Linked DNA regions of Homo sapiens: all the other regions are linked to region 3. The links come from fine-mapping of genetic effects on gene expression. A gene starts in region 3. Each other region holds a variant in brackets. All regions are shown on one strand. Distances are from middle to middle. Region 1 has its middle 12 kb from the start of SIT1. Region 2 has its middle 21 kb from the start of CIMIP2B. Region 3 holds the start of CD72 (CD72 molecule).

Region 1 (4,238 bases), 21 kb before region 3:
CCTACTATGCCCCAATTCAGCAGGAAGCAGTTACAGCGGTCATCAGCCAACCTCCCCAACAGCACTTGGGTTTTCCTGTTGAGAGGGGGCACTGAGAGACAAGACTAGCTGGATTTCCTAGGCCGACTAAGAATCCCTAAGCGTAGCTGGGAAGGTGACTGCATCCACCTTTAAACATGGGGCTTGCCACTTAGCTCACACCCAACCAATCAGAGAGCTCACTAAAATGCTAATTAGGCAAAAACAGGAGGTAAAGAAATAGCCAATCACCTTTTGCCTGAGAGCACAGCAGGAGGGACAAGGATCGGGATATAAACCCGGGCATTCAAGCCGGCAATGGCAACCCCCTTTGGGTCCCCTCCCTTTGTATGGGAGCTCTGTTTTCACTCTATTAAATCTTGCAACTGCACTCTTCTGGTCCATGTTTGTTACGGCTCGAGCTGAGCTTTCGCTCCCCGTCCACCACTGCTGTTTGCCACTGTCGCAGACCTGCCGCTGACTCCCATCCTGCTGCTGACTCCCATCCCTCCAGATCCGGCAGGGTGTCTGCTGTGCTCCTGACCCAGTGAGACTCCCATTGCCACTCCCGATCGTGCTAAAGGCTTCCCATTGTTCTTGCACGGCTAAGTGCCTGGGTTCGTCCTAATCGAGCTGAACACTAGTCACTGGGTTCCACAGTTCTCTTCCGTGACCCACGGCTTCTAATAGAGCTATAACACTCATCGCATGGCCCAAGATTCCATTCCTTGGAATCCGTGAGGCCAAGAACCCCAAGTCAGAGAACACAAGGCTTGCCACCATCTTGGAAGCGGCTCACCACCATCTTGGGAGCTCTGTGAGCAAAGACCCACGGTAACACTAACAGGGTCATGGGAATCACCAAATTTATAGCTAGTTGTTCAGAAGTGTGGGTGACCTGGGGACCCCCAAAGTACAGCTGGAATCTGAAGAGAAGATTTGTGAAGGATTAAGCCCTTAACTTATGGAGTCTGCACTAACTGTAGATGGTCAGTGCCAGAAATGGCTTTTAGTACACCAATTTTGGTTGAAACAGAAAAATGTCACAGAATGAAAACCATTTTAGTAAATAGCAATAATTCAGTCATTTTTGGTGGAAATTCTTTGATGTGATCTAAACCAAAATGAGATCAGCTTTGCTTCAAAAAGATTTTGCCAAATAAGAGAAACTGCTGAATATTTAACGTTTAAAATATCAATTTCTATGTATTTTTTCCTTTTTCATGGTGTTCAGGAATTAATTTTGTTAGCAGTCAAGATTGCTTAATCCTCAGAGTTACATTTCCATTTTGCAAAGTAACAACTGGTTGGTTTTTACTCTTAGTTTCCCTTTCCCCAGCCAGCATGTAAACAACCTGCCATATTGTTGCAAAAAGGCAAATAGGGTTAAAATTGGAGACAAGACTTCCATCATTTTTGCCAAGCAGAGAGGGAAGAACTCAGTAATCACATAATTCTGCTCAAACTAAGTGTATCTGAGAACTATTCAAATGTTCACAGGAGGACAGATGACCTCTTTTTTCTCCATTTCTCTTTGGATGTTACACTTTGTCATTTGTCATCAAAATTGGCCTTTTCCTTTATCTCTTTGTGGTAAAGCTTGATGGCATCTGAATTTACACTGTCTCCTTGACAGTTGTGCTGCTTCTGCTTCTTTCTGGCAGTTTCTACTTTTCCTTTCATTTTATTATCCTGCTTTTTATTTCAATTTTGTTTTTATAGTCTCTGTGTACTGTCTTGACCTTTAGATGGTCTTACCTTCAACATGGCAAGGATGTCACACTACCACGTACAAATAACAATGTGCTTTCTTAGCTCATTTCCCTAGCATGACTTTTTTTGAGATGTCAAAAGCAAGTTTTTGAGAAACCAATTGCATTTTTATTTTGCCCTAAGGGTGCTTAACCCAATGTCTCTTCTTTTATTATTATTTTATTACCCAAGGGAAAAAAAATTTACTTAGTTTATTTTTTTAAAGCCAGTACTTTGCTCATCAATTAATGTTTGTTGAATTTATTCCTACTGGATGAGTAGTTGTATTCTTTTGAAATAATGTGTCAAATCTTTGTGCCCAAAGATTAAAAAAATAAAAGTAAAATACATCTAAAAAAAAAAAAAA[AG/G]AATAAGGCGGCCTTCCGGCCCCTCTGGGTCTAGGGCGGTAAAGCGTCTAAGGGTTGCTGCCAAGCGGGCCAGGAACTGGGCTGGGTTTTCGCCTTTACCTTGGGTAGTTTCCTTTAGCTTGTCAGAATTAACAGCTTTGTGTGCTGCCTTTTTAAGCCCTTCAACTAGGCAGGAAATCATGTAATCTCGCCTAGCTATACCTGGGGAATCTGCCTGATAGTTCCTTTGGGGGTCCTCTCGGGGAACTGCTCTGATGCCTTCCTGGAGGCCTGGCTCATGAAGCCAGCGGTTGTCAGCGTGAGACTGGGCTAGAGAAAAAACTCTTTCCTGTTCATCTGGGGAGAGGGTGGAAGTCAGGATGACATTTAAGTCACTGCAGGTTAACTTGCAGGACAGAGTTAGATATCGGAATTCCTGTATATATTTAGCGGGGTCTGATGAGAAAGAGCCCAAACACTGGCTGATTTGGGAAAAGTCTGATACAGAAAAAGGCGCATGTACCCAGACTATGCCTTCAGCTCCAGCCACTTCTCTAAGAGGAAATTGTTGGGCAGGTGGGGGAGAGCTAGTCGCAGAACAAAACTGTAAGCCAGACTGGGTGTGAGGAGGGGAGGTGATAGAAGGGTTATAGGGTGGGGGAGCGGAGGCTGAAGAGGAGCTGGAGCCTGATTCAGCCTGGTGGGGAGCGACCTGAGGAGGAGCAGTCTGGGGAGGAGGGGAGAGGTCAGATGGGTCGGTAGAAAAGGAAGATTCAAAAGACCCAGCAACACTTGGGGTTGGGACTGAAGGGACAGGTGGGAGGGAAAGAAGGAGGATTTGGGACAAGTCGCATTGGGAACAGAGACTAGGGAGAGAATGAAGTGTGAAAGACGCCCGGATGTACGGCACCTCCGACCATTTGCCCATTTTTCGACAAAAATTATCTAGGTCTTGTAGGATAGACAAATTGACAGTGCCGTTCTCTGGCCACTTGGAACTATTTTCGAGTTTGTATTGGGGCCAAGTGGTATTGCAGAAGAAAATAAGGCATTTAGGTTTTAGGTCAGGTGTGAGTTGAAGGGGTTTTCAAGAACACAGGCTAAGGGAAAAGATGGGGGAATCGAGGGTGGAAGGTTGCCCATAGTGAAGGAGGTAAGTTTAAAGAGAAAGGTAGAGACACGGAGCAGGGGGTGATGAGCAGCCCTGGGCTGCAATGTGGGTGAGCAGCCAAAGCAGGCGTCCCCACAATTGACTTGCCACCAAGGGAATGTGGGTGAATGACCAAGGCAGGCATCCCCGTGGTGATCAGACACCAATGAAATGTGGGTGAATAATCAGGCAGGCATCCCCGCAGTGATTAGACACCAAGGGAAGGCTGTCTTCCTGAGTCCATGACCAGCGCCGGAGTTTTGGGTCCACAGATAAAATGTGTCTCCTTTGTCTCTACTAGAGAGGAAAAAGAACTGGAATTGGAAGGACAGGGAGATTGAAGGGTAGCAAGAGAGGGAGATTGAAGGGTAGCAAGAGAGGCTGGAGAAGAGAGTGAAAAGACCGCTTACCCAATTTGAAATTGGTGAGATGTTCCTTGGGCTGGTTGGTCTGAGGACCCGAGGTTGTAGGTGGATCTCCTCACAGAGTTAGGGCGAGGACAGGGGACCCGCCTCCCGAAGGAGTCCTCCTGTCCCGGGTCTTCAGCACCAAATGCCATGCACGTCTGTGTGAAGAGACCACCAAACAGGCTTTGTGTGAGCAATAAGGCTGTTTATTTCACCTGGGTGCAGGCGGGCTGAGTCCGAATAGAGAGTCAGCAAAGGGTGATGGGATTATCATTAGTTTTTATAGTTTTGGGATAGGCGATAGAGTTAGGAGCAATTTTTTGCGGGCAGGGGGTAGATCTTCTTACAAAGTACGTTCTCAAGCGTGGGGAGAATATTACAAAGTACCTTCTTAAGGGTGGGGAGGGTGTATCGTACAAAGTACATTCACAAGGGTGGGGGAATATCACAAAGTACTTATCGCAAGGGTGGGGAGGGTGTATTGTCACAAAGTCAATTGATCAGTTAGGGTGGGGCAGAAACAAATCACAATGGTGGAATGTTATCAGTTAAGGCAGGAACTGG
Region 2 (4,238 bases), 34 kb after region 3:
TTGGCCCACTGCAACCTCTGCATCCCAGGTTCAAGCAGTTCTCCTGCCTCAGCCTCCCGAGTAGCTGGGATTACAGGCATGCACCACCACACCCAGCTAATTTTGTATTTTTAGTAGAGATGGGGTTTTACCATGTTGGTCAGGCTTGTCTGGAACTCCTGACCTCAGGTGATCCACTCGCCTTGGCCTCCCAAAGTGCTGAGATTACAGGTGTGAGCCACCACGCCTGGTCTCTAGAGGGTATTTAAACCCCAGAAAATTCTGTAACTGATGCTCTTGAGCCACTTGCTTGAGCCCACTCCTACCCTATGGGGTGTGCTTTTACTTAAAATAAGTTTCTGCTTTTACTGCCTTGCTTTGTGTGTTTTGTCTGATTATTTGTTCAAAACGCCAAGAACCTGGACAACTACCCTCAACCAGTAACACTATTGCTCATTTATTTCTGGTGTTCTTGGGTCTTACGGGGTTATAGACTGTGTGACTCCTGGAGGGGAAAGGGTGGCCAACATACAGTCACCTCTGTTTCATGTTTTTGATATACAAGGGAAAGCTATTCTTAAAAGAACAGGTGACTCCCCAGGGAGTCAGGAGTGGTTACAGGGCATGACTTCTTCCCACTCATGGCCACAAACAAAAACAAGCCCAGTTGGAGCACAAACAGGGTCCCTACGGGGTGCGATGCCTACCCTTTGCTGCCAAGTTGTGTCTATAGAGATATTTTTCCCTGTTCTAATTGGGGTGGTTGAACAATCTTTGTTTTCCAAAAGGGGAGGAGGTACTCCCACCTTCCCAGACTAAATAGTTGTTTTTCTCCCATGTGTTCCTTTTTTTTTTTCTCCTGTATGTTCTGATCCAGGGGAAGGAACCATAGATGGTCTCATTGCTTACAAGTTCTATCCCATTTACTTTGCTGTGGCATTGGGAACTTGGCAACTAAGGCTGGATCAGAGCATTGCAGGAAACTTGGCTTTTGTGTCATTAACACAACACTGGGTGCCAAAGATAGAATCATTAGTGCACTAGAAGTATAGATACCCAACTTTCCAGGTCCACATAATAGCAGTGAGGGGGTTCAGGTGGAACCCATTAAGTGGGGGAGAGTTCCATCTAACAAGTAATAGTCTGGGGAGAGGCAGTGAGATTTTTCCGGGTAGGCCTTATGGACTTGCTTTTTAATCAGCTGTAACTCTGCCTCAGCCTCCTTTGTTAATTGTTGAGGGCTAGTGAGACTAAGATCTCCTCTAAGGATAGAAAATAGATTACTCATGGCATAGGTAGGAATGCCTAGAGCAGGTTGTGTCCAATTAATGGTCTTTAGTCATTTTTGAAAGTCATTTAATGTTTTCAATTGATCTCTACGTATGGTTACTTTCTGTGGCACAATTGTAGTGTCATTTACTAAGGTCCCCAAGTAGGAGTAAGGAGTAGTAGTCTGAAATTTGTCAGGGGCTATAATTAAACTGGCAGGAAAAATCAAGTTTTGCAAGTGATCATAACATTGGAGTAATATTTCTCGAGTGGGGGCAGCACAAATTATATCTTCTATACAATGAGTAATGTAACACTGTGGAAATTTTTTACGAGTCGGTTCAATTGCTTGTCTTACATAAGTCTGGCAAATTGTTGGACTGTTCAACATGCCTTGAGGCAACACTTTCTAATGAAAATGCTTAGCAGGCTGCAGGTTGTTTACTGCAAGAATTGTAAATGCAAACCATTCAGTCTTGCTTAGCTAAGGGGATAGTAAAGAAACAGTCTTTTAAATCTATGACTATTAAAGACCAGTTTTTTGGAATCATAGCAGGAGAAGGCAGTCCTGGCTGTAATGTCCCCATAGGTTGTATAATTGAATTAATGGCCCTTAAGTCAGTTAACATTCTCCATTTACCTGATTTTTTCTTAATTATGAAAACTGGAGAATTCCAAGGGGAAAATGTTGGAGCTATGTGTTCTTTTTCTAATTGTTCAGTAACTAAGTCCTCTAAAGCCTCCAGTTTCTCTTTACTCAGTGGCCATTGTTCTATCCAAATTGGCTTATTCATTAACCATTTTAAAGGTATAGGTTCTGGAGGCTTAAAAATGGCCGCCATCAAAAATAATAATCTTAAACCTTGGTGGGAAATTTGTCTTTCC[G/A]CTTGAAGCGGTTCCTTCGAACTTTGCAAATTTTTTCCTAGTCCCGTACCAGGAACATACCCCATTTTATGCATCATATGTTGACTTTGAGGGCTGTATAATTGTTCTGGAATTAGAACTTGTGCTCCCCATTGTTGTAATAAATTTATAGGTACAGAAGTTATAATTGGTTGAATAGTCCAGGTTGTCCATTGGGCCCTTCACAATGCAAAATATAACTACTTTAATATACTTCAGGGGCTTTACCAACTCCAACTATGTTAAATTGAGCGGGTTGAATTGGCCACGTGGACGGCCAGTGCTGTAGATAAATGATTGAAACGTCCACTCCTGTATCTACCAAACCTTTAAATTTCTTTCCCTGAATAGTTATTTCACAGGTAGGATGTTTATCAGTAATTTGATTCACCCAATAAACTGCTTTGCCTTGTTTATTTGTGCTTCCAAATCCTCCTGTTCATTTAATTTCACTTTTCCCCATTTCTACATATGGCACAATCAGGAGTTGTGTTATATGCTGTCCTGGCTCTGCTTTCCAGGGAACAGAAGTAGATATAACAACGTGAATTTCCCCATTGTAATGTGAATCAGTGACTCCTGTTTGTACTTGCACTCCTTTTAAATTTAAACTAGACCTGTCTAGAAGTAATCCTATTGTCCCAGCTGGCAAGGGTCCACAGACCCCTGTTGGAACTTTTTTGCAGAGGTTCCCCAGGCAGAAGGCTCCACAGCTTTTGTGCAGCATAAATCTACTGCGGCACTACCGGCTGTGGCAGGGGACAGACATTGTATAGGGGTGAGGGAATGGCCTGAGCCGGAAATGCCCCGGTTTGGAACGGGCCTGGGACGGGCCCTGAACGGGCCCCTCATGGCATTTCCCGAAATTGGGTTTCCATCCTTATCAAATTTAGAATGATGCTGATTGGCCCAATGTTTTCCTTTTTTACACTTCAGGCATATACCTGGTTCATACTGATAGCCTGTTTAAACTCTTTAAGTAATTTAAAGAGAAAAGCCTCAAATATAGCTATAATATTTCTCTGTTGATCTGGGGGGTATATCCTAACAGGGAACTGCCAAGCCTCTATATCACCCTCTCCTTTTCTTTCTTTTTTTTTTTTTTTGAAACGGGTCTCACTCTGTCACACAGGCTGGAGTGCAGTGGCACGATCTCTGCTCACTGCAAGCTCTGCCTCCCAGGTTCATGCCGTTCTCCTGCCTCAGCCTCCCCAGTAGCTGGGACTACAGGAGCCCGCCACCATGCCCGGCTAATTTTTTTTGTATTTTTAGTAGAGACGGGGTTTCACTGTGTTAGCCAGGATGGTCTCGATCTCCTGACCTCGTGATCCGCCCACCTCAGCCTCCCAAAGTGCTGGGATTACAGGTGTGAGCCACCAGTTCCGGCCTATATCACCCTCTCTTCTAGCTTGCTGGATTCCTGCCTGAATAGAACTGACAGCAGTCACTCGAAGAGCTGCTCGAACAGTCACTGGGGCAACTACTTTTCGCCCAGTGTCCTCCGTAAAAGAAAGATCTGGAGGGTCAGGCTGCTCTTTTTCTTCAAAATAAGGAGGGAGTGCAGAAAGGTAGGGATGAACTCTTCCTCCTTTGCCTCTTTAGCTTTAGCTGGCAAACAAACCTGCTCTGTTACCTTTTCTGTTACTTTGTTATACTCTCCTTCCTCCTCATCATCAGTGTGAAAAGGTTCCAAGGTGGGACGAACCAGAGCCCACACTTGTCCCATTGTTACCCTGATGCTTCTGAGCTCCCCTTCTTACTCACTACAGGGATTGCTTAAGAGTACTTGGGTGTCCTCCAGCTTAGTTCCACATTCTCCAACCATTGCTCCGGCAACCCTTCGATCTGGGTTCGAGCCCCACTTGCTGAGACCAGCTCCGTCGTGGAGACCCTAACCCAGCCGTGCTGGAGGAATTAAAGACACACACACAGAAATATGTAGTGTGGAGTGGGAAATCAGGGGACTCAACAGCCTGCAGAGCTGAGAGCCCCAAACAGAGTTTGACCCACATATTTATTGACAGCAAGCCAGTGATAAGCATTATTTCTATAGATTATAGATTAACTAAAAGTATTCCTTACAGGAA
Region 3 (4,238 bases):
TGTTGCCTAGGCTGGAGTGCAATGGTGTGATCTTGGCTCACTGCAACCTCCACCTCCTGGGTTCAAGCGATTCTCCTGCCTCAGCCTCCTGAGTAGCTGGGACTACAGGTTCGAGCCACCACACCAGGCTAATTTTTTTGTATTTTGTAGTAGAGACGGGGTTTCACTATGTTGGCCACAGACACCTTTTTGAGTGCAGACTAGAAGCTTGGTTTTGGCATTTTACCTGGCATCTACATCATGTTCACCTGTGTATTGGATCTGAAAACTGGGACATTCTACAGTTTGTGGAACTCCTGCAAATGTTCCTGCAATTGATTTACTCACACACTGCCCACACCCACCCCCTGTACACCACAGGTTCAAGTATTTGACTCTTCCCACCCCACCCACCCCTGCCACCAGCTGCTCTATACCCTCCCACTCACTCTCAGGGCCCCTGAGGTCCCCAGGGAGTCACCACCACATACCACTCTCTGTATCTGGGGGAAGGTCTAGGTTGTTGGAAACTTTAATCAAGCAAGGACAGTTAACAGCTGCAGAGGCACCTTAGGAAACAGTGAGCTTCAAAAAGGAAATACTTGTAGGATCTCTTGTGATGACCTTTGACGACTTTTCTGAAAATGACCCGTCATTCTCTGCCATGGAAAATAACAGTGATCACAGGCAGCCTTCAGCCCACAGAAGGCTTCCTCCTCCAGGCAGGCTCTGACATAGCCGCTCACCTCACAGATGCCCTAACAGACTGCAAAGTCCTGGGAACATGCATATCCATGCACACACATGCACACGTGCCTCTCTACAAGTACATTTTTGAGGTCACAGCTTTGCCTCAGTGGCCACTTCCTCTAGGGCTGGCTGGGCGGAGCTATTGGCAGAGCTCTAGGGTCCCTGGCAGTGTCCTGCCACACACCACCAATCATCCGAGCTGTTGGCATGTGGTGAGGACCTTTTCCCCCTTCCTTTTTCCTCCCCACAGCTGCAGGAGGGGGATTCTGCGGGGCGGATGTCACTTTGCTAGGGGCGGGTTCTTCCCACCCCCACACTACATCTTGTTCTAGCTCCTTCCTATCCCGGATGTAGGCCATTTTGGGGTTCCTAGTAGGGGTCACATCCCGGTAAAAGAACATTAGGGAGCACCTTTGGGCACCCCTGCTCAGCAGCCCCCTTTCCCCCAACTGGTTCCCTCTCTCCTCCATCAGCCAGGCCCCCACCACCTATGAGGGCCTCGCGGTCCCTGGGTCCTCCGCCACAAATGCCCCCTTTTTCCTTGGGGCTGGGTGGGAAGGGACAGCTTTGGGACTTTTTAAAGAAAGAACTTTGCTAGGAAAGTAAGAGACGAACCAAAACCAAACCAAGAAAATGTCAAGACCTCCGCTGGTCCGGAATCTGCGCTCGGCCTCTGGCTCTGTTCTGCTCCTCTGCCTTGACTTCACCTAGGAAGCTGCAGCCTTCTTAAGCCCTCTGCAACTCCCTTGCTCACCTGCTCCCTGGCTCCCCATGAGGGTGCATGGGGGGCAGTGCTGCCACTTGCCTTTCCAGAGGTGCTGCAGCCATGGCTCTTCCTTACCTTCACCTCTGGCCCAGGCCTGTTCCTGAACCCCCAGTTACTGGAACCCCCAGGATGATGAGAAGCGAGGGATGCAAACCAGGAACCCCCAGTCTCATGGGGAGAACGGAGCCTCACCCTGGAGCTGGGGAGATCGTCTGGGTCAGTGCAGCTCCAGCTACACATCATAAGCCCCAGTGGACAAGGCAGCCAGGAGGAGGGTGGGGCAGATCAGGGCAGATAACCAGAAGGACCGAGTTTGGGGCCCAGCATGGCCCATATGGGTTTAAGATGCATGGAGAGGAAGCACAGGGAGGACATGGGGACAGGCCCATCCCCTACCCCTGTGTTCTGGACCTCAGCGTCCCCTCCGTGGCCCCTCTGGCCCTGGCCCAGGGATGCCTTCTGCTTCATTGAGCCCATCTGTTTGAGACTTGCTAACACCTTCCTCTTTTGTGACTGGAAGTCACAGGGCCAATTGCTAAGCCGTGCAGTCACAGAGGGAACACAGAGCCTAGTTGTAAACGGACAGAGACGAGAGGGGCAAGGGAGGACAGTGGATGACAGGGAAGACGAGTGGGGGCAGAGCTGCTCAGGACCATGGCTGAGGCCATCACCTATGCAGATCTGAGGTTTGTGAAGGCTCCCCTGAAGAAGAGCATCTCCAGCCGGTTAGGACAGGGTAAGGGGGATGAGGCCTCCCCTTGATCCTGCATCCCCACTTCCCGCCCCACAGATCCCATTCCCAAATCCCACCTTGGTCCCTTTTCTCTTCTCTCTAGACCCAGGGGCTGATGATGATGGGGAAATCACCTACGAGAATGTTCAAGTGCCCGCAGTCCTAGGGGTGCCCTCAAGCTTGGCTTCTTCTGTACTAGGGGACAAAGCAGGTCTGGAGAGCCTGGGGGATGTGTGTTTGTTGGGGGGCTGTGTCTTGAGCTGGGGAGTCCACAATGTTTTTGTTGTTGTTCTTGAGACAGGGTCTTGTTCTGTCACTCAGGCTGGAGTGCAGTGGTGTGATCATGGCTCACTGCAGCCTCGACCTCCTGGGCTCAAGTGATCCTCCTGCCCTGGCCTCCCAAAGTGTTGGGATTGCAGGCGTGCGCCCCCATGCCATGGCCCTCAGTATTCTTGAGAGCACAATACCCTGGGGAAAGGAGGAGGGCGGTTCTTAGGAAACAGAAGAATAGGAACAGGATAAATGGGAGCCAGGGGAGGAAGAAAGATTCCTCCCGCAAGGTGGAGACCCCTTTCGGGGAGATAAGGGCTGCGGAGGGATAGGGCAGCCCTGTGGGGGATGAGTTCTAATGGGAAACGGGGAGCCATGGGAGGGAAAAGAGGTGATGGGAGATGGATGAGAGCAAAGGGGGAGAGGGTTTGGAGCCGACAGATAAGGGGCCTCTGAGGAAACGATAAAGGGAGAACTAGGAGAGATGAGGGGGTCCCGGGAAAAGATACAGTGAGACCCAGGAGGAAGCCGAGAGAGTCCCGGGCAGAGGAGGAACTCAGGAGAGTGACACTGTGTCCCAGAGCAGCTCTAGCAGGCAACGTAGGGCAGACTGGAGTTTCCCAGTGGCGAGGGCGAAGCGGGTGCGCAGGAGGAGAAGGGGCAACACTCGGGGCTTCCGGTCTCACACTGGATGCTCCCCTCGACAGCGGTCAAGTCGGAGCAGCCAACTGCGTCCTGGAGAGCCGTGACGTCACCAGCTGTCGGGCGGATTCTCCCCTGTGAGTGTGCCTGTGCGGGGCAGCCGCGGGGCCAAGTGCTCGCGCCTGTCCCGGCTGCGGATGGCGCTGGGCCCCGCGGGGTGCAGCTCCTTCCGGGATAAACCCGGGCGCAGTCCTTCCGACGCCCGGGCTGCCGTGCCACATTCACCTTCATCCGGTGCGCCTGAATCCGACGTGCACCGCCCCCCTGCGGATGGTCCCAATTCACCTACCTGCCCCCCTTCCCCTCTCTCCGTCTGATATTTCCTTCCCCTTCTCCCAGGTAACGCCCCCGAGTCCCCACCAGCACTGATTCTGGAACACCCTCTCCCCTACCTGCGAAACACCCCGCTACCCGACAGAAACCACCATGCTTGCCCCCTCAGCTCTGCACCGCCCTCCTCTTAGGGATGCCTTCCCCAGGGGTCTCCCCCACGGACCTGTCCCTTCCTCTCTACATTCTTTACGGGGGCTGACTGCCCTCATCCATCCCACTGTCCCCCTAAGGCCGCACAACCTGCCTGCGATACCTCCTGCTCGGCCTGCTCCTCACCTGCCTGCTGTTAGGAGTGACCGCCATCTGCCTGGGAGTGCGCTGTGAGTAAGGCTGTCCCTACTTCCCACTTACACCGAACGACTTTCGTCCCGACTCTCGCCCCAAAGCTGATCTTCCTCAGCAGGGATCATAGTCACTACCACCACCTCCTTAGCTTTGGGTTTGGTTTCCAGCCAGGGCTGTTGTCTTCCTGAATTGTCCTCACCTAATCCAGTACCTCCTTACGCTTTAGTCAGTCAAATCTTGTATTTCAGCCTGTGATGCAAAAAGTTGCAAGAAGCAGAAAAAGGGCTGATGCTGCAGTCTCAGGGCACTAGGGCAGGGCTGGAGAAGACATCCACCAAATCTCTGTGGCCAAACAGATCTGCAGGTGTCTCAGCAGCTCCAGCAGACGAACAGGGTTCTGGAAGTCACTAACAGCAGCCT

Evidence for each region. PIP is the estimated chance that this variant, and not a neighbour inherited with it, causes the effect.
Region 1: its variant is the best candidate, but not a certain one, in a credible set for the expression of CD72 in whole blood (INTERVAL, PIP 0.63).
Region 2: its variant is the best candidate, but not a certain one, in a credible set for the expression of CD72 in whole blood (INTERVAL, PIP 0.62).

What each region holds. Positions count from the first base shown.
Region 1 is chr9:35,636,925-35,641,162 of GRCh38, reverse strand. It overlaps a transcript of CD72 not described here. Among named protein-coding and RNA genes, the nearest start is that of SIT1, 12 kb to the left of the region's middle. The variant AG/G (reference allele first, on the strand shown) is at 2,138.
Region 2 is chr9:35,582,260-35,586,497 of GRCh38, reverse strand. No RefSeq gene overlaps it. Among named protein-coding and RNA genes, the nearest start is that of CIMIP2B, 21 kb to the right of the region's middle. The variant G/A (reference allele first, on the strand shown) is at 2,134.
Region 3 is chr9:35,616,215-35,620,452 of GRCh38, reverse strand. It overlaps CD72 (CD72 molecule), which reads left to right and starts at 2,040. Exons shown (of 9, transcript NM_001782.3): 1 at 2,040-2,231; 2 at 2,332-2,439; 3 at 3,206-3,277; 4 at 3,764-3,853; 5 at 4,175-4,238. The coding sequence starts at 2,150. RefSeq lists enhancers at 3,036-3,185, 3,625-4,238.